Regions from separate parts of the Homo sapiens genome. Here regions 1 and 2 are each reported to be linked to region 3. Evidence: microRNA targets listed by miRTarBase, many of them from high-throughput screens and not tested one by one. Region 3 holds a microRNA gene; each other region holds the end of a gene's coding sequence.

Evidence for each region. Region 3 holds the annotated microRNA hsa-miR-6757-3p (AACACUGGCCUUGCUAUCCCCA, at 4,337-4,358, shown strand). A microRNA usually pairs through its seed, bases 2 to 8, with sites in the 3' UTR of a target mRNA and lowers its output. Matches are read on the target gene's strand: a 7mer-m8 pairs with bases 2 to 8, a 7mer-A1 pairs with bases 2 to 7 and ends in A, and an 8mer does both.
Region 1: the mRNA of BAK1 is a reported target of hsa-miR-6757-3p. Seed matches in the 3' UTR shown: 7mer-A1 at 4,990-4,996.
Region 2: the mRNA of COXFA4L3 is a reported target of hsa-miR-6757-3p. Seed matches in the 3' UTR shown: 7mer-m8 at 6,260-6,266.

What each region holds. Positions count from the first base shown.
Region 1 is chr6:33,567,813-33,574,938 of GRCh38, forward strand. BAK1 (BCL2 antagonist/killer 1) reads right to left here. Exons shown (of 6, transcript NM_001188.4): 5 at 6,222-6,402; 6 at 4,740-6,095. The coding sequence ends at 5,991. Among named protein-coding and RNA genes, the nearest start is that of BAK1, 8.9 kb to the right of the region's middle. RefSeq lists an enhancer at 3,605-3,894.
Region 2 is chr15:45,432,235-45,439,360 of GRCh38, reverse strand. It overlaps COXFA4L3 (cytochrome c oxidase associated subunit FA4L3), which reads right to left. Exons shown (of 5, transcript NM_197955.3): 5 at 6,021-6,413. The coding sequence ends at 6,345. It overlaps MIR147B (microRNA 147b), which reads right to left and starts at 6,311; the gene lies at 6,232-6,311. LOC107987223 (a long non-coding RNA gene) reads left to right here. Exons shown (of 2, transcript XR_001751510.2): 2 at 5,211-5,892.
Region 3 is chr12:53,052,654-53,059,841 of GRCh38, forward strand. MIR6757 (microRNA 6757) reads left to right here and starts at 4,291; the gene lies at 4,291-4,359. It overlaps TNS2 (tensin 2), which reads left to right. Exons shown (of 29, transcript NM_170754.4): 4 at 758-796; 5 at 1,121-1,159; 6 at 1,312-1,361; 7 at 1,617-1,788; 8 at 2,533-2,583; 9 at 2,915-3,037; 10 at 3,128-3,192; 11 at 4,360-4,443; 12 at 4,914-5,026; 13 at 5,120-5,180; 14 at 5,374-5,449; 15 at 5,663-5,792; 16 at 5,919-5,984; 17 at 6,061-6,174; 1 more. It overlaps TNS2-AS1 (TNS2 antisense RNA 1), which reads right to left and starts at 1,785. Exons shown (of 4, transcript NR_033854.1): 1 at 1,668-1,785; 2 at 743-921. RefSeq lists an enhancer at 828-1,067.

The DNA.
Region 1 (7,126 bases), not on the chromosome of region 3:
AGGAATAGGCTTTACTGGGGGAAGAGAAGACAACAAATCATCAAGAGAAGCAGCATGGGTTCCTTGACCCTCCTCTCATCACCCTCCCCACCCTGCTGGGGGTGGGGGTTTGCCGCGAGGGTGGGGAGGGCCCCGAGCCAGAGCAGCCGAGCGCTCTTCCAGTGTGCATTCCAGTGGGAGGGCCTTCCTGCCATCACGCTGCCTTTGTGTAGAGCTGGCATGAAAAAGCAGCTTTGTCAGTGGAGGTACCCCAGGCTGCTTGGCACCATGCAGTCTAGATTTGGGGTGCCAGCCCATTACAGGAGCTGTCTGAGAACACCAGCATTTGAACACCCTAGTCCTGTAGACATCGCAGTGCCTCCCACTGGTGGAGGGGGCTGGGGAGACGGAAAAGCATGCATGGAATACTCAGAAGAATCCCCAGTCTCCTGGTGAACTGAGCGTGGATGTGCCCCCTCTTGCCAGGAAAAGGAAGGGCTATTCCTAGTTAGCGCATTCTGCAGGCCACCCAGAATGAAAGTCCAAGCTCACGTTAAGACACTCATCCGGCCGGGCGCGGTGGCTCACGCCTGTAATCCAAGCACTTTGGGAGGCTGAGGGGCGGATCAGTTGTCAAGGGTTCAAGACCAGCCAGGCCAACATGACGAAACCCCGTCTCTACTAAAAATACAAAAATTAGCCTGGCGTGGTAGAGTGAGCCTGTAATCCCAGCTGGAGGCTGAGGCAGGAGAATCGCTTGAACCCAGGAGGCAGAGGTTGCAGTGAGCCGAGATTGTGCCACTGGACTCCAGTCTGGGCAACAGAGTGAGATTCCATCTCAAAAAAAAAAAAAAAAAAAGACACTCACCCATTCTACTAGGCATTACAAGCAGGGGGATCCCCCATGCCCTTACCAGGACAGCACTCGGCTTTTAACCTGCCCACAGCCCCTCTCACACATAGCCTGGTAGTAGTGTTATTTAGGTTCCTGCAAATCTGTTTTTTTTTTTTTTTTTTAGCAGACATGGTAACCAACATCGAAGTGCCTCTTGCACTCTAATTCACAGCTTCCAAATTTCAGAGACACCAGACATGCCAAATGCATCTTGCCTTTCCTCAGTATGGCCCACCTGAGACTTTAGCAAAAAAATATTCACACACTTGAGGAAGCCTAACCATCCGCTGGAAATTAACTGGATAAGCTGCCCTCAGTGGGGTCAGAGGTCAGCTTAGAGCAGGTCAGGTTAGAACATGAGAAGGTTGGTGAGCCCAGCCCCACACAGCTATCACAAAAGTCTGTGCCATGAACTTCACAAAGTAGGTTCACCTCAAGGTTCAGTGGAGCCTTCAGTGTGTCCTTAGCCAAAGCTGTTTGGAAAAAATTGTGACATTGGACACCAGGAATGATTCCAAGATTGCAAAGGAAGAGTTGAGATAAATGGAGCTAAGAGATGTATTGATTCATACTTTGATTCCAACAACCCATGCCCACTCACATGTTACTCACCAGATGCCACATACACACTTAGCCACACGCACGTTCACACTCTCACATGCATCCATTTGGTGCCTGCCCACGTCCATTGCCAAATCCCATACTCCAGGTAAAGGGAGGTTGTATGGTTTCAGTCTCTTCAGCTATGAAGTGGCCTTTCCTAGAAAAGTCCAGTTTTTGCCTGTTAGTCCATCACCTGATCTTGGTAATGGGGGCGGGGTGCCCCTTCATTGGATCACTCATAAAATATGCCAGGGATCTGCTTCAGTAGGCCAAATCATTACTTTTTGTTCTCTCTCTTTTTTTTTTGAGACAGAGTTTCACTCTTGTTGCCCAGGCTAGAGTGCAATGGCACTATCTCAGCTCACTGCAACCTCTGCCTCCCGAGTTCAAGCGATTCTCCTGCCTCAGCCTCCACAGTAGCTGGAATTAGAGGCATGCACCACCATGCCCGGCTAATTTTTTGTATTTTTAGTAGAGACAGGGTTTCTCGATGTTGGTCAGGCCGATCTCGAACTCCTGACCTCATGATCTGCCCACCTTGGCCTCCCAAAGTGCTGGGATTCAGGCATGAGCCACTGCGCCCAGCCTGTTGTATTATTTTCTAGTGAACTGAATCCCCTGTCCTCTCACGTCTTACTTTTATATCCCAGGAGTCCAGTGTTCACCTTTAACGTGTCCAGCAACAGCTCAACACACCCCAGGAGAAGCTGGGTTTTGCTGATTCTGGTTCCTGACCTTTGGGCACCTCCAGCAACCTTCAATAACTCCCTTCTCTTTCTCTCTCTCCACACACACACACACGCATGCATGCACGCACACATACACACGCATGCACGCACGCACACACACACACGAAATCATGATTATCCTTATCTGTTCAGCTCAGATAGAATTAAATCCACATTTGGGCCTCGCACTGTGGCTCACGCCTGTAATCCTAGAACTTTGGGAGGCCAAGGTGGGCAGATCATGAGGTCAGGAGTTCGAGACCAGCCTGGCCAGAATGGTGAAACGCCGTCTCTACTAAAAATACAACAACAACAAAAAAAATTAGCCGGGCATGGTGGCGCGTGCCTGTAGTCTCAGCTACTCGGGAGGCTAAGGCAGGAGAATCGCTTGAACCCGGGAGGCGGAGGTTGTAGTGAGCCGAGATTGTGCCACTGCACTCCATCCAACCTAGGTGACAGAGCGAGACTCTGTCTCAAAAAAAAAAAAAAAATTAAATCCACATTTTACAAGCATCTTACAAAATGGGGCCTCTACATCTGAAGTGCATACAACTGGAGCAGGAGGGGTACATTTTTGTCACGGGTGAAAAAACAAAACAAAAACAAAAAAAACTAGTGGATATGGTGGTTTAAGTTTAATGAATACATGTAAATTTATTTTAATGCATTCAGGTGACTATGTCATAATAACTTGTTCAATATACTGAGTGATTTTAGGCTAAGGAAGGATTTTTTCAAATGAAAGGGTTTGGATGGACACTCGGTGACTCTCTAAAATATACTCTTCAGAGGAGGTAAAAATAAATACGTGAAGGTAAAACGGCAGGGTGGGGGTGGGGAGAATGTGAGGCTGTTGTGTGCAAGGAAGGGCGGGTATTCATACTGAAACTGCAGAACTAAGCAGGTGACAGCTGCACACCGCTCCTTTCCCTGGCCGGGCTGCCCCAGCTCAGTGACATCACAGACTGTGACGAACCCAGACGTATTTGGTGGAAACCAAGCCACAATCTCAGAAGCAGCGCACAGTTTGAGTAGAAATGAGTTTTTTTGGTTTCTCTTCCCTAATACCCACAGAGCCCCTACACTCCCGTTATCCTCGCAGCCCCTGGCTGACTGTGTCCGACCTAACTTCTCGCCCCCTGGTTTCAGAATATCCTGGCAGCGGAATAGAGGGCGTTGGGGGGCGGTGCAGGCCAAAACTTTTTGGGCTGCCCCACCCATGCCTTTCCGGTTAGCGTTGCAGCTCCTTAGACGAGTAGGCTAACCACAGCCCACCCGCCTTTCTTCCAGCGATGCAACGATCTGTTCGCCGCTCAATGCCGCATGCTGTTCAAAGCCCAGAGGCTGGAGTGGGTGCGCCCCAAAGGCCCCGCCCAAGGAAGGGCACGCTTGCGTGCTCGCGGCGGCGGCCATCTTGGACTCGGGCAGCCGCCCACTTCTAACCTCTATGGCATCGCTCCGGGAGGGAGGCGACCCCGCACTCTGGGCCTCTTAAACCTGTGCTCGCGAGCCCCACATTGCTCTCCGGCCTCCACGTAAAACTCGAGCCAGTTTCCTGGTGGCAAGTCCTCACTCCTTGGGTGACTCTGAGAAAGCACCCGTTTCCTTATCTGTAAATAGTAGTTTGAGTACCCCCACCCCCGTCTCCTACCTATTATTTGGGCAGATGATGAACTCTCAGCATAAAGCCTGGCACACAGTATGTGTTCTATAAATGTTGTCTGTGAGCTTTTCCTGTACACTGCGGGGTGCCTTGTAGCAACCACCTTCCAGCCACCACTGCCTGCAGCGCCGCCTTTTCCCTTTTCCAAGATCGCGTCTGTACTAGACTCTGAAGACCTTGTGGAGGGAAAAGGGGCTTGGCAAGCCCACCCCAGGAGGGTGAAGGTGAAACTCACGAGTTCTCTTGGACTTGCATGTGACCCTTTTGGAAGGGCGTCAGAAACACAGACCAGGGTGCCCAGGACTGGAAAGACTGTAGATTTTGGAACATTTAAACGCCCCCATGCTTGTTATTTTTATCACCCCTGGCTGGGTACCCATAGGGACTCCCAAGCAGCATAAAACTAGAATGAAAGCCCTGCGTGTGTGCTGACTGTGGAGACATCAGGAAGGGGGAGCTGGGACATTGTGTCCCAGGCAGAGCTAAATGTGGGGGAGAAGGGCCTTTTGGACCAGCGTGGGTGGTAGCCCCAGGGTGGGAGAAGAATTCAGCCCAGGTCAGAGGTAGCCTGTGGGGGTCCTCAGATATGTGCAGCTGCTCCACCAGCTCTGTAGCTAAAGGACCTCCCAGACTTCCTAAAGGGTGGAAACTGCATGAAACCCAACGAGATGAGAGAAGTTCATGGGGAGGGGCGAACGCCTTCCATCGGAGTGGGGGCTGCAGAACCATACTCAGGCCTCTATGGGATTCTAGAGGCCTAGTGTGAGGTTTTATTCAGTAATAAGCCAGATGTATGCCAGGCGTGCCCAGGTTCCCACAGTCTGGCCTGATGGAAAGAGGGGTAGCAGAGAATACAAAAACTAAGTCAGGGTGAGGGGATTGCACAGTTTATTTCCAAACACTCAGAGGATAGGGGGTGGCCTATGGGCTCCATCTGCCTCCCCTCCCTGCATTTGGCTGAATCAAGAACTTCTCCCCCCTGACCCCCAAGACCCTAGGCTGTGCCCAATAGAGAAGGCACTGTCACCCCCCACCCTGAGGAGACCTAGACAGGTGAGGAGCATGGAGGGTGGGGGAACAGAGTTCAAGTATTCACAGTTCCCCCATCTACACCCCTGGATTACACTGTGCCAGAGCCATGAGGGAGGATCCCACCTCTGGGATTCCTAGTGGTGTTGATAGTCCTTCTCCCACTTAGAACCCTCCAGATGAACTCCCTACTCCTTTTCCCTGATATAACAAACCAAGTCCTAAGCCCTGTAGTCTGGGCAAGGAGGAGCCTTAGCAGGCCACTCACCCAAGGCCCCCAGGGATGGGGGTGAGAGCCTTCACCTGTAGTGAATGGGTTGGGAGCAAGTGTCTATAAGGAGAGAGGAAGGGAGAGAACTGAGAGGACCTTGGGAGGCAGGCTTGGAGGCTTCTGACACGTGAGTTCAGACAGCTCTGGTCTGCGACTCCACCCCACCCCACACCCCAAGCCCAGAATCCCTGAGAGTCCAACTGCAAAGGCAGTATGGCCGGAGGGAGGAATGGGAGCAGGGGTAGAGTTGAGCAGGACCTTGGCCCCCCTCTCCTAGTAGGTCCTGCTCCTGGGACACATGCTTAGGGACGGCCAGGACCAGGCTCAGGTCCTAGTCCCATCTCTTAGGGTGCTGATCTTCCAGAATAGCTGAATCCTGGGGAACATAGACCCACCAATCCCCACACCCCAGACGTCCTGGCCTCAGGTAGAATGGTGGGAATGGGCTCTCACAAGGGTATTATAAAAAGCTAAAACCGTTAAACACTTTCTGGGGAGAAGTGGCTCCCAGTCTCTTGCCTCCCCAAGTTATCAGTCTCCCCAGCGCCTAGCAGACAGGGCTAAGGAGGTCCCAGAGAGCTGAGGGAGGAGACGGCCACAGCCCCTGGGCCCAGAGAGAGGGCCCACTAGCACCATGCAATGTTGAGGTGCCTCTGCAGCCTGACTGGCCCCCACGCAGGGGCCCTCCGAAGCTGGAGTGCACACTTGCTAAAGCTTCTGTACTCTTGAGGGGGGACCCCTGCAAGGGAACAGAGAAGGCAAAGACTTCGCTTAAGTCCAGGCAGGGGTCTGAACCGGGACCCCAAAGGGCACCCTTGGGAGTCATGATTTGAAGAATCTTCGTACCACAAACTGGCCCAACAGAACCACACCCAGAACCACCAGCACGTTCAGGATGGGACCATTGCCCAAGTTCAGGGCTGCCACCTGCCGGGAGAAACAAGGTGGTCACAGAGAGGCTAGCAGAAGATATAGGAACCCGAGGAAGGGGTGGGGCCTGGGAGAGGGGCAGCCCCAACAGCAGGGAGGACATTGCAGTCCTTGGATACTCACCCAGCCACCCCTCTGTGCAATCCACCGGGCAATGCAGTGATGCAGCATGAAGTCGACCACGAAGCGGGTCACCTGGCCTAGGAAGCCAGTCAGGCCATGCTGGTAGACGTGTAGGGCCAGACGGTAGCCGAAGCCCAGAAGAGCCACCACACGGCCCCAATTGATGCCACTCTCAAACAGGCTGTGGGCAGAGCATCCCATAGCATTGGTGGAGAGCCCCCAGGAAGCCCTTCAGCCTGCCTGGCCTCTCCCACCCCTCTCCCAGCTGGAAGCTAAATAGCTTAGCTGTGAATTAAGGCCGCAGAGGCTGCCCCAACCTGGCCTGTATTTGGGAACAACCTGGGTCTCTGCGAAAGGAGAAAGCTCAGGGGCAGATGAGCTGGATGCCACTGCTGGGGTGTACGCTCAGGTGCAACGGGGCACAGAGAGGGCAGAGGGCAGAGCAAGTGGATGGAGTCAGCGGGGAGATTACCTGTGGGTGTTGCTGCTGGCCTGGCAGCCCGAGGGACAGCAGAGAGAAAAGGACAGAAAAGATTAGGGTAGTTCCTGTCATCACAGTGGTATGAAGGCTGGCCTCTAAGTTCACGGACTGGATATTTCAGCTCTGAGCACTAATTCTAAAATCTATCACTTACTCCTACCTTCACCTCCAGTTTCAAATCTACTCCGACACTGACTTCCCTAACTCTGGTGGTAGCAATGGCTAACACTTTGTAAGGTGGACACTAATCTAAGCATATTTTCCCTATTTTACAAACCAGGAGACTAAGGGCTAGGAAGCTTCACGAAGGCAGTAAGTGGCAAAGCTTGGATTTGCACCCAAATATTCGGTGTCTTTAACCACTTGGATGCCAGATTATAGCAAGTAGGAGCCATTTCTAGGACCTGGCAGAGGTTAGCACCCT
Region 2 (7,126 bases), not on the chromosome of region 3:
GCACATTTATTTATTTATTTTTTGAGATAATAGTCACGCTTTCTCACCCAGGCTGGAGTGCAGCGGTGCAATCTTGGCTCACTGCAACCTCCACCTCCTGGGTTCAAGCAATTCTCAGCCTCCCGAGTAGCTGGGATTACAGGTATGCGCCAACACGCCTAGCTAGTTTTTTGTATTTTTAGTAGAGATGGGGTTTCCCTATGTTGGCCAGGCTGGTCTCGAACTCCTGGGCTGCAGTGATCTGCCCGCTTCGGCCTCCCACAGTGCTGGGATTACTGATTGTGAGCCACCATGCCGGGCCTTATTTCTAAGGAGATATGTATGTTTTTGTTATGTCTTTTCTGGTTGTGAGATCATCTATATGTGTTATGTGTGCAGGGGTTCTTATTTTAAGCTAGGTATCTACGTAGGTGAGAGTGAATATGGGATGCATTTATCTACAGCTGTGTGTGCACTCTGTCTAAAAGGTTTGTAACTGGGGCGTTGTGAACCAAAGATGGGCCAGGAGTCCTCGGGTATGCATAGATTTCAAACAGAGCTGGGTATGCATGGATTTGAAACACGCAATGCTCCCACTCATGGAATGTAATCCTAAACACATACGGCAGTTTTAATAGTGATAACCTCCTTTTTTTCAGACAGGGTCTTGCTTAGTCACCCAAGCTGGAGTGCAGTGGTGCAATCTCGGCTCACTGCAACCTCCACCTATTGGGTTCAAGCAATCCTCCCACTTCGGCATCCCGAATAGCACCACAGGCATGCGTCACCACACCCAGCTAATTTTTTTATTTTTTGTAGAGACAGGGTTTCACATGTTGCCCAGGGCTGGTCTCGAACTCCTAAGCTCAAGCAATCTGCCTGTCTCAGCCTCCCAAGGTGCTGTTATTACAGGGATAATCTTTTTTCTTTAGGAAGAAGGGAATACTTACTGAACAGCTAGTCCATGTTAAGCACCATTTTAGGTACTTTATAGCTATTATCTCCTGTAAGTAATCATTACTACTAACCTAAACAGGTATGAACTGGCCCAGTTTTTTTTTCTTTTTTCTTTTTTTGAGACAGAGTCTTACTTTGTTGCCCAGCCTAGAGTGCAGTGGCGCGATCTCAGCTCACTGCAACCTCTGCCTCCCAGGTTCAAGCAATTTTCCTGCCTCAGCCTCCTGAGTAGCTGGGATCACAGGCGCACACCACCACACAGGGCTAATTTTTGTATTTTTAGCAGAGATGAGGTTTCACCAAGTTGATCGGGCTGGTCTTAAACTCCTGATCTCAAGTGACCCAGCCTCACCCTTCCAAAGTGCTGGGATTATAGACGTGAGCCACCGCGCCTGGCCTGAACTGGCCCATTTTTTTTTTTTTTTTTTTTTTTTTGAGGTGGAGTCTCACTCTGTCGCAGGCTGGAGTGCAGTGGCATGATCTTGGCTAACTACAACCTCCACCTCCCCGTTTCAAGCAATTCCCCTGCCTCAGCCTCCTGAGTAGCTGGGACTACAGGCGTGCGCCACCACACCCAGCTAATTTTTTTTTTGTAGTTGTTATTTTAGTAGTATTTGTGTGGCCCAGCACAAATTTGTAAACTTTCTTAAAACATTGAGTTTGGTTTTTTTTTGTGATTTTGTTAGTGTATTTTATGTGTGGCCCAAGAAAATTCTTCTTCCAACGCGGCCCAGAGAAGCCAAAAGATTGGACACCCCTGGCAGTAGACTATTACCTCCTCCCTCAACTTAAAATCCTTTTCTGGTTCCTTTGTGCCTGGAAGATAATAGCACAAATGTCCTACACATTCCACCTACTTCTTTTTCTCCAATTATCTCTCTTAATATTAAAAATACTCTGTATTGGTCAGGTAGGATGGCTTATGCCTGTAATCCCAGCAATTTCAGAGGCGAAGGCAGGAGGATTGCTTGATGCGAGGAGTTTGAGGCCAGCCTGGCCAACATGCCGAAACTCAGTCTCTAGCCTATAGTCCCAGCTACTTAGGAGGCTGAGTGGGAGGATCACTTGAGCTGGGGAGGTCGAGGCTGCAGTGGGCTGTAATTGCACCACTGCACTCCAGCCTGGGCAATGAAAGTGAGACCCTGTCTCAAAAAAAAAAAAAAAAAAAAATTCCCTGTATTAATCTACTCCAAGTTTCCAAGAGACACCATGCTACTTTAGGTGGCTCTGTCTTGGTAAAAATGTGCCTCTACTTCAATTGCCTTGCTGACTTGTAATGATGATGATTTTTTTTTTTTTTTTTTCAAGAAATCAGCCGAAGTAGACTTTCAGGGATCCACCTTCTTTGGGAAGCTTTCCTTCATACCATGTGCCTACTCCTGTCCTTGCTTTATTGTCCTGGCATTGCTCTCATGCTGTTTACATGTGTGTATCCCTTTCCTAAGCTGTAAGAGCCTCAAGGCCAGCACAGCGTCTAGCACATAGTGAGTGCTCATCAATTGTACAACCTCTTATAAACTACATGAAAATACATCATTATTAGATTGTAAATAAAAAATTGTAAAGTCTGCATGTAAGAGAATGTTATCCGGGTAATGTTCTCGTTATCTGTAGAGATGGCCGTTCTATAAAAGCTGCTTTGGAGTCATTTTCATGACCACAAGTCAGTCAAGTACTCAGTACAACTTAGACAAATGCAACAAGTAAACCTTGGAGTAGATGATTCTGGATTTTAAAATACAGATATAAAGGATATTTTTGAGACAATTAGAGGAAAAAAAGGTGATATTTATGATATCACTATCATATTTATGATAGGTGATATTATTGAATGAATGTTAACTTTCTTAGGGATGATAATGGTATTCTAGTCAGCTACAATGTCTTTTATCTTAGGCAGTGAGTACATGCTTAAATTTTTAGGGAAAAAAGCCTCATGTCTGTAACTTGTTCTCAACACTTTTTTTTTTTTTTTTTTTTGAGACAGGGTCTCACTTGGGTTGCCCAGGCTGGAGTGCAGTGGTGTGAGATCAAGGCTGTCTGCAGCCTTGACCTCCCAGGGTCAGGTGATCCTCCCACATCAGCCTCCCAAGTAGCTGGGACCACAGGTGTGTGCCACCACACCTGGCTAATTTTTGCATTTTTAGTGGAGATGTTTCGCCATGTTGTCCACACTGGTCTCAAACTCCTGGGCTCAAGCCATCTGCCCGCCTCAGCCTCCCAAAGTGTTGGGATTACAGGCATGAGCCACTGTGCCTGGCCTCAACGAGTTAATTTTTGAAAAGCATACATACACAGGGAGATACAGCAAATGTGGCACAATGTTAATTGATAAGAAGTGTGAGTAACTTTCAACTTCTCTGCATATTTGAAAAATTTCAAAATAAAATGTTTGAAGGAAATGCTAAGAACACAACAACAAAACCCAAATCTTTTGAAATTTAAGCATCAACATTGCTTTTGGCCTCTCTCCCTCCTAAACCTGCAGAAAAGTACCTCCCATTGCCATGTTCACACCACCACATTTCAATCAGGTTTGTGTTTTAAAGTTGAAAGCCACAGTCATCCCTTGAAAAACACTCTATACTTTGCTCTCTTAGTTGACCAACCGTTAATTTTTATTTGTGCAAATGACATTACATTAGACTTTAGAAGCTTAAGCAAATAAAAATGTGCTTCCCAATTGCTACGTGTAATTCCTTGAGATCAACTATCAGAGACTTTAATCTGAGACGACTTGAGGTGATAAGGAAGCAACAGAAGTTGGCAGCAGTCTTGCTTTAATCCTCTCAGAGTTGCCAAGTTCCTGGCAAAACCTAGTTATTTGTTATTGCTGTGAAGGTAACGCTGGAGCCCAAAAAATGATACCCCAAATGAAGGCCGCAGAAGCAAAGTTTCTCTGCCCTCCTGTCTGTTGACCCTGATTCTTCCCCAGGTGAGCCATAGAAACTAGAATTCCTCTTCTCCAAGACCGGCCATAGAAGCCAGAATCCCGTTTCCTGAAAGCCAGCCATAAAACCTAAATATATTGCTCTTAAATTTCCCCCACCTTTCTATGTAACAGCTGGCCATAAAGAAATTAAGACACTCATTCCAGAGGGATCCCACCCCCACACCCAGCAGAAGGAAATGCTGCAGACAGGCCTTGGTGAGCTTCCCCATGTAGTCTATTCTGATAGCATTAGGACCATATCCTTTTTGTCCATATTTCTACATGTCCAATCATATTTCTACATCGACTTTTCATTGAACATAAGCATAAAAATGAACAGTTTTCCCTATATCTTTGGGTCTTCATTCTGAAGGCTACCATGTCAAGTAAACTATAAGTGTGTTATGCTTTTTCTAGTTAACCTGTCTTTTGTTATAGGGGTGTTAGCCATGATCCAATGGGGAGGGAAGGGATCACTCCTTTCCTCAAGTGATCAGGCAGTTGGATCACTTGAGGTCAGGAGTTCAAGACCAGCCTGGCCAACATGGCAAAAACCCTGCCTCTACTAAAAATACAAAAATTATCCAGGTGTGGTGGTGGTGCATGCCTGTAATCCCAGCTACTCAGGAGGCTGAGGCACGAGAATTGCTTGAGCCCAGGAGGCAAAGTTTATGAGATGGTGCCACTGCACTCCAGCCTGTCTAGTCTGGGTGACACAGCAAGACCCTGTCTCAAAAAAAAAAAAAAAAAAAAAAAAGTTAACGAACTTAGGTACCTACTTAGGAGAACCAAAAATATATGGCCACACAAAAATTTGTACATGGCTGTTCATAGCAGCATTATTCATAATAGCCAAAAAGTAGAAACAACCCAAATGTTCATCAACTTACCAATGAACAAAAATGGCATATCCTTACACTGGAAGAGTACTGTCAGAAAAAGTAATGAAATACTGATAATATAAACATGGTACAACATAGATGACTCTTAAAAACACTATACCAAGTTAAAGGAGCCAAACCCAAAGGTCACATATTGCCTGATTCCATTTACATGAGATGTCCAGAATGGGCAAATCCATAGAGACAGTTTATTAGTATTTCCCTGGGGCTGGGAGCAGAGGGGTTGGGACTAGGGAAATGACTGCTAATGGTACAGAGTTCTTTCTGGGGTAAGGAAGATGTTCTGAAAGTAGATGGAGATGGTTGCACAACTTTGTGAATACGCTAAAAACCACTGAATTGTTCAATTTAAATGGGTGAATACTATGACATGTGAATTATATCTCCATTTTTTTAAAAAAAGTTAATGAAAAGCAACTTTCTTCTTATTTCATTTTTAGGGACAGGCAGGGGAGCCCAGCGGCATGCTGGATATGAATGTATCTTCAGCCTTCAAGTTACCATTGGCCAGAGGGAAGAGTGGCCCCAAACTCTGAAGAGCGCTGGCAAGGCTCCCCATCTTCCTCTCCCTAGCCTCCACAGGAACATCACAGTATGGCTTGGCATTTTTTTTTTTTTTTTGAGACGGAGTCTCACTCTGTCACCCAGGCTGGAGTGCAGTGGTGTGATCTCAGCTCACTGCAAGCTCTGCCTCCCGGGTTCATGCCATTCTCCTGCCTCAGCCTCCCGAGTAACTGGGACTACAGGCGCCCGCCACCACGCCCAGCTAATTTTTTGTATTTTTAGTAGAGACGGGGTTTCACTGTGTTAGCCAGGATGGTCTCAATCTCCTGACCTTGTGATCTGCCCGCCTCAGCCTCCCAAAGTGCTGGGATGACAGGCGTGAGCCACGCGCCCAGCCTGGCTTGGCATCTTTAGGGCAGATCTCAGTATGCCTTGCATTCCAATTCATCTCCAGAATCCTACACTTCCTCCAAGGTCAGTCCTCATGCGAGTCTCCAACCTCATCCCCACTTCATTTTCCTCATTGTACTTACCATCTTTTATTCGTATCCCACCAAATTTTGGCTTTGTTAGCTATACTGCAAATAGTAGATGCTCAATAAACTACTAGTGAATGAATGAACTTGGAAAAAAAAGCTTACACAGAAATCTGTACTGGATGTTATTTAAAAGATGAAATTTCATGGTTCAAATGTATTTTTCTCCCATAAAAATATTTTCTCTTCCATTTAAATATATACCTAATCTTTGAGAAATCTTGCACAAATGGCATTTTATTAAAGAAAATCTAATTTACAAAGCTTTGTAAATTTTAAGAAAAACATTCATAGATCATAAACAAAAATTTCAATATGCAATATTCAAATTTACAAGAAAATAAGCACAAACTTTTAGACAGTGCAGTTATTGCTGCACTCCTTTAATTCCTTATCCAGAGCCCAAAAAATGTAGACAAACCCTAAAAATGTAGCAGAAGCATTTCCGCACACTGGTGTCCAGAATCTAGTTTGTGCAGAAATGTTTCCACTAGATTTATAGAGTACTCTTCAGAAGAAAGAGGCGAGGGCTCGTCATTTGGTCACCCTTTGGACATTTTGCAACTCTTCAATGGGTTTCCATTGTTGGTTGATTGTTATAAGCTGAAGAGAAAAAAGGAAAAAAAAAAAACCTTTTGTTAAAAATTTGACTTTCATTTGCATGTCCCTCTTTCGGATTTGTCCACACTCCCCTTTAGAAAAAGCATCACCATTGTGTTTGTACCTACCTCTTTCCATATCTAAAACATGCACAAAATAGTAATGTGAGCTGGTTTCTATCAGTCCATCTTTTTACAAAGCCCTTGGGCTCCTAAGTGTTATGAGATCAGAGGGAAAGATCAAACACATGTGCCCTACTTTCACTTAGCAGTATCCAGATTTTTTTTTAAGACAGTCTTGCTGTGTTGCCCAGGCTGGAGTGCAGTGGCACAACTGCAACTCACTGCAGCCTCCGCCTCCCATGTTCAAGCAATTTTCGTGCCTCAGCCTCTCCAGTAGCTGGGTTTACAGGTGCGTTCTACTACACCCAGCTAATTTTTGTATTTTTAGTAAAGATGGAATTTCACCATGTTGGCCAAGCTGGTCTCGAACTCCTGACTTCAAGTGATCCACCCGCCTCGGCCTCCCAAAGTGTTGGCATTACAGGTGTGAGACACCGTGCCTGGCCGGTATCCAGATTTTTAAGTTTGCCAGGTATTATGTGAGCCATAGTTCCAAAAGTGTATATGCTTCTCATGAGTGGATGGACAATGCTCCTGGCATAGAGTAGGCTCTTAAAATTTCCTCATTTTAATTACTCGATGAAGGCACAATTG
Region 3 (7,188 bases):
GAACCACCCTACTCCGCCTTCTGGAGGGCTGGCCAGCCCAGGCGGGTGGACAGCAAGACAGCGTTTGTCTTGGTGCTGTGCCCAGACTGCAGCTGGCGAGAGGATGGGGGTGGGGAAGAGGAGGAGAATGAGGAGGAGGAAGGGTGGGGTGGGTGGGGAGTGGGGGAGCAGGATTTCAGAGACTGGGCAGCCGGATGGGCTGTGCCTTCCCTCTGGGGAAGGGTCCTCAAAATGCCTGGGCGGGTCTTGTCCTGGGCCCTGGAAAAACTGGGCCTTTCCAGGTATAAGCTGTGGATAGCACCCACTGTCCACTGGGGACCTGAGACAGCCCTGTCTCTGAAGAGGTCCCCTGGTCCTCTTCCTTCAGGACAGGGGGAGGAGGATCCCAGGGCCCTGGAGCTGGCTTGGGGGAGCTGTGTGCCCAGGGGCGGGGTCTCCCGGTGAAAGAAGCCAGTGTCCATCCCTGGCCATGGCCTGCCTGCTTGGCTCTATATATAACTCCTGCCCTACAGCTGGATGAATGGGGGTCTGTGTGGGCTGGGGGCTGAGCGCCAAGAGCAACAAGTGGGGGGCCTGGGGGGTGGGGGACCAAGAGGCCAGAGGGGAGGTGCCCTTAAATAGCGCAACCTCAGCTGGAGCCTGTGCCCATCCACTGAAGGCCCCTCCACCTTCCTCCTGAAGCTGAGGGGCTGCCCCATCCTCAAGCCCACGAGAGCCCTTCACCAGGAGCTCAGTTCCTTACTCGGTCCCCTTCCAGGTGACTTCAGCCTGTCAGGCCTTGCCTCCCGTGGAGTTGGTGAGTGCGCTCTGGGATGGGGTGGGGAGGGCAAGGAACCTGGCCATGGTGTCCAGAGGTCTGGTGGCTCCAGAGAGGGCCCCCAGGAGATGACCTTGAACGGAGTGCTGTGGGTATTGCTCATCCTATGAGGAAAGAAAAAACTGTCTGAGTCCTCTGCTGATCTTGTGCCCTTGGGCCTGCTGGGGGTAGGACTCCTCTCCCCTTATCCAGTACAGCCTTCAAAAGGACACTGACATTCCCTTCCCCTGTCCCCAAGGCCCACATTGGTCCTTGCCCCTGCTGTAACTAACCACTCCCTTTTCCTCCCCCATCTCCCTCTAGCGGCGAAACACGGCCCCAGTCAGGCGCATAGAGCACCTGGTAAGGTGATGCTGGAGCAGGAGGGGGAAGCAGGTAGCTTTGGGAGTAAGGATCTAGATTTCCTGAAGACAAAAAGGGCATGGCTCTGGAGTGGGCAGTCTAGAGTAGGGGGTACCCAAAGAGATGTCTAGACACTGTCTGTTAACCACCAGGGATCCACCAAATCTCTGAACCACTCAAAGCAGCGCAGCACTCTGCCCAGGTAAGTGAGGGTGCTGGGGTGGTCCCACGTGACCCCCTTTCCGCCGGCCCCACACCTCAGCCCAGGGCACTGCCCCGCAACAGAGCTCCCCGGGACAGCCCCCCACCCCCAAAGCGGTATTCTCCCTCCAGACCGATCCACCCACCCTCAGGACCCAGCAGGCTTCACCTGCTGCCCAACAGACAGCCTTCCCGTCACACTAGCCACCTCCGGGTGCCCCGCCCCTGCGTTCATGCGTAGGCTCCTCCTCCCCAGGAGCTTCAGCCTGGACCCGCTCATGGAGCGGCGCTGGGACTTAGACCTCACCTACGTGACGGAGCGCATCTTGGCCGCCGCCTTCCCCGCGCGGCCCGATGAACAGCGGCACCGGGGCCACCTGCGCGAGCTGGCCCATGTGCTGCAATCCAAGCACCGGGACAAGTACCTGGTGAGGGGCGGGGCCATCAGGAGTCCGCCAATGAGAGGGATGTAGGGTCCAGATGGGCGAGGCTAATCACTGACGTCACCAGCGGAGGCGAGGCCGCCAGGGGGCGGGACCAGAGTGGTGGGGTGGGGGCGGGGCCCGGAGCGCGGCCTGGAGCGGAGCGGAGAATCCTGGAACGCTGGCGACTTGGCTGTGACTGGCTAGGCCGGGCCTTAGCTACCTTTTTATTTTCTTTATTTATTTACCTTTTTTTTGAGACGGGGTCTCACTTTGTTGCCCAGGCTGGAGTGCAGTGGCACGATCTCACCTCACTGCAACCTCCTCCACCCGGGCTCAAGCGATTCTCCCACCTCAGCCTCAGTAGCTAGGATTACAGGCGTGCGTCACTCACGCCCAGCCAATTTTTTTTTTTTTTTTTTTTTTTTTTTGTATTTTTTGTAGAGACGGGGTTTCGCCATGTTGGCCAGGCTGGTCTCAAGACTCCAGGGCTCAAGCGATCCACACCCGGCAAATTGTTGTAATTTTAGTAGAGATGAGGTTTCACCATGTTGGCCAGGCTGGTCTCGAACTCCTGACCTCAGGTGACCCGCCCGCCTTGGTCTCCCAAAGTGCTGGGGTTATAGGCGTGAGTTACTGCGACCGGCCTGCACCTTATTTTAGAGGAAGATTCTTACTTAGGATCCACCTCCACCTCGTGCCTCATTGCCGGAGATCATTTCTGTCTAAAGCCCTCCCCCTTTATTTCAGCTCTTCAACCTTTCAGAGAAAAGGCATGACCTGACCCGCTTAAACCCCAAGGTATGAAGGAAATGGCCTGCCCAACCATTAAACCAAGCCACCCCAACCCCAGAAGCCCCCAGCTTCCTCGTTATTAATAGTAGCAATTGGCATCTACTTCACTCTTAAGCACTTTCCCACTCTCCCATGATATATTACTGGAGACACCCCAAAACGTGATGCAGCAGGTATCAGCCCATTGTATGGATAAGGAAAGTGCCGAGGCTATCATGGACAACCAGCAGACCCCCAGCCTTGCCCCCGGACCCCTATGCCCTGTCCCCTTTCCACCCTGCCCATCTCTCTCTGTTGGTGGCCCCCGGCCCCAGTTGCACCCCTGCATTCTCCCCAGGTTCAAGACTTCGGCTGGCCTGAGCTGCATGCTCCACCCCTGGACAAGCTGTGCTCCATCTGCAAAGCCATGGAGACATGGCTCAGTGCTGACCCACAGCACGTGGTCGTACTATACTGCAAGGTGGGCCAGGACCTCGGGTTCCCTGGTGCCTGGAGGTTCCAGGTCAGCCTGGAGCTCCCAGACCCTCATCCCTGTCTCTCTGTCTGTCAGGGAAACAAGGGCAAGCTTGGGGTCATCGTTTCTGCCTACATGCACTACAGCAAGATCTCTGCAGGGTGAGGCTCCCAGCGCCTGAGTAGCTGCTTCCCCAGTGGCCCTTTCTCCAGCTGGCCCCTTAGGAACCCATCTCCCCTGGAGCCCACCTCTTCGTTGAGAGTCCTTTGCTGTCAGCTTAGCACTTCCACCTCCCTTTTATCACTAGTACTGCAACATAGTCTGCAGCAGATGGTCTGTAGAGTTTCCTGGGGCAGCCACAAACAGGGTGGTGTAAAACAGTGGAAATGGGCCGGGTGCGTTGGCTCACGCCTGTAATACCAGCACTTTGGGAGGCTGAGGTGGGCAGGTCACCTGAGGTCAGGAGTTTGAAACTAGCCTGGCCAGGTGAAACCCCATCTCTACCAAAAATATAAAAATATAAAAATTAGCCGGGCGTGGTGGTGGGCGCCTGTAATCCCAGCTACTCAGGAGGCTGAGGCAGGAGAATTGCTTGAACCCAGGAGACGGAGGTTGCAGTGAGCCCACACGGTGCCACTGTACTCCAGCCTGGGTGACAGAGTCAGACTCCGTCTCAAAAAAAACAAAAACAAAACAAAACAAAAAACAGTGGAAATGTACTCTCTCACAGTTCTGGAGGCCAGAAGCCCCAAACCAAGCTGTCAGCAGGCCCTTGCTCCATCTGAGACTCGGGATGGAATCCTTCCTTGTCTCTTTCTAGCTTCCAGTGGTGGGCGGCAAGCCTTGGCATTCCTTGGTTTGCAGACACATCACTGTAATCGCTGCCTCTGTCATCACATGGTGTTCTCCCTGTGTGTCTCTGTCTGTGTCTCTTCCTCTCTTCTTATAAGGACACCAATCATATTGGATTCAGGGTCCACCCTCCTTCAGTATGGTCTCATCTTAACTAATTATGTCTGCAACGGCCCTATTTCCAAATAAGGTCACATTCTGAGGTACATGTCTTTTGGGGGGATATAATTCAACCCATAAGATGGTTTTGTTGCCCTGTTTTACAGATGAAAAAACTAAAGTTCAGGGAACAATTGCCTGAGGCCCAACAACTAGTAAAGTGACTGTACATGGTGCTTCTCATTCTCATTACCACTACTCTGGGCTTCTTCTAGACTTAGAGAATCATATTTCTCCTCCATCCCCTGGGGCTTAGGGATGGGAGGCCAGGATGAAGATTAATCCCTAATCCCCAACACTGGCCTTGCTATCCCCAGGGCGGACCAGGCACTGGCCACTCTTACCATGCGGAAATTCTGCGAGGACAAGGTGGCCACAGAACTGCAGCCCTCCCAGCGTCGGTGAGCAGCCTGGGTGGGGATGGGCCAGAGGAGCAGCTCCCTTCATGGCTACCAAGGCCAAGACTCTCTTATTCATGCAGCACACTTTCACTGAGTGTGCCAAGCGCCGTGCCAGGTGCTGAGAATTCAAAGTGGACAAAGCCCCTGCTCTCATGGAGCTTTCATGCTAGTAGGGTGGAAGGCAGTAGACCTGGGAATAAATAGACGAGGAGATCAGTCATAAAGAGAACCTGAAGGACAGTCAGGGCCTGCCACTATAAAGTGAAGCAGAGCTCTGGGGAAAGAGCTTTGAGGCAGAGGGGAGCAGGAGGGATTGAGGTTAGATGCAAGGAAGAACTTTCTGGTGACCCGGAAGATGGGAAGGAAGTGTTGAGCAGAAGAGCGAGCCTTCTAAGGGTGGATGGTTGAAATGATACAAGGTGACCTCCAGAGGAAAAGGCTTATGTTCTCCTTGACACGCCCTCCACCAGATATATCAGCTACTTCAGTGGGCTGCTATCTGGCTCCATCAGAATGAACAGCAGCCCTCTCTTCCTGCACTATGTGCTCATCCCCATGCTGCCAGCCTTTGAACCTGGCACAGGTGAGTCTGCCTGAGATGTGCTCCCTAGGGAGAACCACCTTCAGGCCCTCTCCACTCAGCACCCCTCCTGTGCCTTCTCCTCTGCCCCTCCAGGCTTCCAGCCCTTCCTTAAAATCTACCAGTCCATGCAGCTTGTCTACACATCTGGAGTCTAGTGAGTGCTCTATTCCCAGGCCCCTGACACTTCATGACCAGGGCCCCTCTTGCTCCTGCATTCCTGCTTCTCCAGCCTCCCTAGACACCTGGGCAGGGCTCAGACTCTGGTCTCCTGGCTCCCCCTGACTGCATAGCTGCCTCTGCACGCAGGAGCTTCTGGTTCATCTCTGCCTTCTCCTCTCTCCCCACAGTCACATTGCAGGCCCTGGTCCCCAGCAGCTTTGCATCAGCCTGGAGCCAGCCCTCCTCCTCAAAGGCGATGTCATGGTGAGGGGGGTCCTGTCAACAAGAAGAATCCTGGAGATGGGGCAGGGGTTGGTGGTGTAACGGCACAGTCACCAATTTGAGACAGATTGGAGAGCGAGTAGGGAGATCACCTTGAGATCGAGGCAGGGCAGAAGCTGTGACCAGGCAGTCCCCAGGGTGGAAGCGCAGAAGAGGACATGAGGCCTGATCCGCAGCCTCCTGCCTTTCTCCCAGGTAACATGTTATCACAAGGGTGGCCGGGGCACAGACCGGACCCTCGTGTTCCGAGTCCAGTTCCACACCTGCACCATCCACGGACCACAGCTCACTTTCCCCAAGGACCAGCTTGACGAGGCCTGGACTGGTGAGTCTGAGACAAGTGGCCTGGGGCTGGAGTCCAGGTGGCAGGCAGGTGGCAGGCAGGTGGCAGGCAGGCAGGAGAGTGTGGTATGGGCCAGGGGCCTGGTTCTTCACTGTCCACTCCCCATAGATGAGAGGTTCCCCTTCCAAGCCTCCGTGGAGTTTGTCTTCTCCTCCAGCCCCGAGAAGATCAAAGGTAAGAGCAGGGACATGGGCTGGGGACTGAGGGCCGCCTCTCCCCTGCTCCCCAATACCCGAGTGGCCTTCCACAGGCAGCACTCCACGGAACGACCCCTCGGTCTCTGTCGACTACAACACCACTGAGCCAGCCGTGCGCTGGGACTCCTATGAGAACTTCAACCAGCACCACGAGGACAGTGTGGATGGTGCGCAGGCAGCCTGCAGGGTGGGAGGTACAGGGTTGTGGCGGGACCCTGGGGGGTGGTGCCAGGGAGAAGCACACTCCCTCCTCCCCAGGCAGAGCCCACTCCCGAGAGACACCCCCGGCCCGACAGCTGTCTCCAGTGCCATCCCCTCTCATGAATTTTCTCTCTCCCTCCCTGTTCCCCGCTTGCCCTCCCTCCCTGATCCTCTTCCCCACTCAGGCTCCTTGACCCACACCCGGGGTCCCCTGGATGGCAGTCCTTATGCCCAGGTGCAGCGGCCTCCCCGGCAGACCCCCCCGGCACCCTCTCCAGAGCCTCCACCACCCCCCATGCTCTCTGTCAGCAGCGACTCAGGCCATTCCTCCACGCTGACCACAGAGCCGGCTGCTGAGTCCCCTGGCCGGCCGCCCCCTACAGCTGCTGAACGGCAGGAGCTGGATCGCCTCCTAGGAGGCTGCGGAGTGGCCAGTGGGGGCCGGGGAGCTGGGCGCGAGACGGCCATCCTAGATGACGAAGAGCAGCCCACTGTGGGCGGAGGCCCCCACCTCGGAGTGTATCCAGGCCATAGGCCTGGCCTCAGCCGCCACTGCTCCTGCCGCCAGGGCTACCGGGAGCCCTGCGGGGTTCCCAATGGGGGCTACTACCGGCCAGAGGGAACCCTGGAGAGGAGGCGACTGGCCTACGGGGGCTATGAGGGATCCCCCCAGGGCTACGCCGAGGCCTCGATGGAGAAGAGGCGCCTCTGCCGATCGCTGTCAGAGGGGCTATACCCCTACCCACCTGAGATGGGGAAACCAGCCACTGGGGACTTTGGCTACCGCGCCCCAGGCTACCGGGAGGTGGTCATCCTGGAGGACCCTGGGCTGCCTGCCCTATACCCATGCCCAGCCTGCGAGGAGAAGCTGGCGCTGCCTACAGCAGCCTTGTATGGACTGCGGCTGGAGAGGGAGGCTGGAGAAGGGTGGGCAAGTGAGGCTGGCAAGCCTCTCCTGCACCCAGTGCGGCCTGGGCACC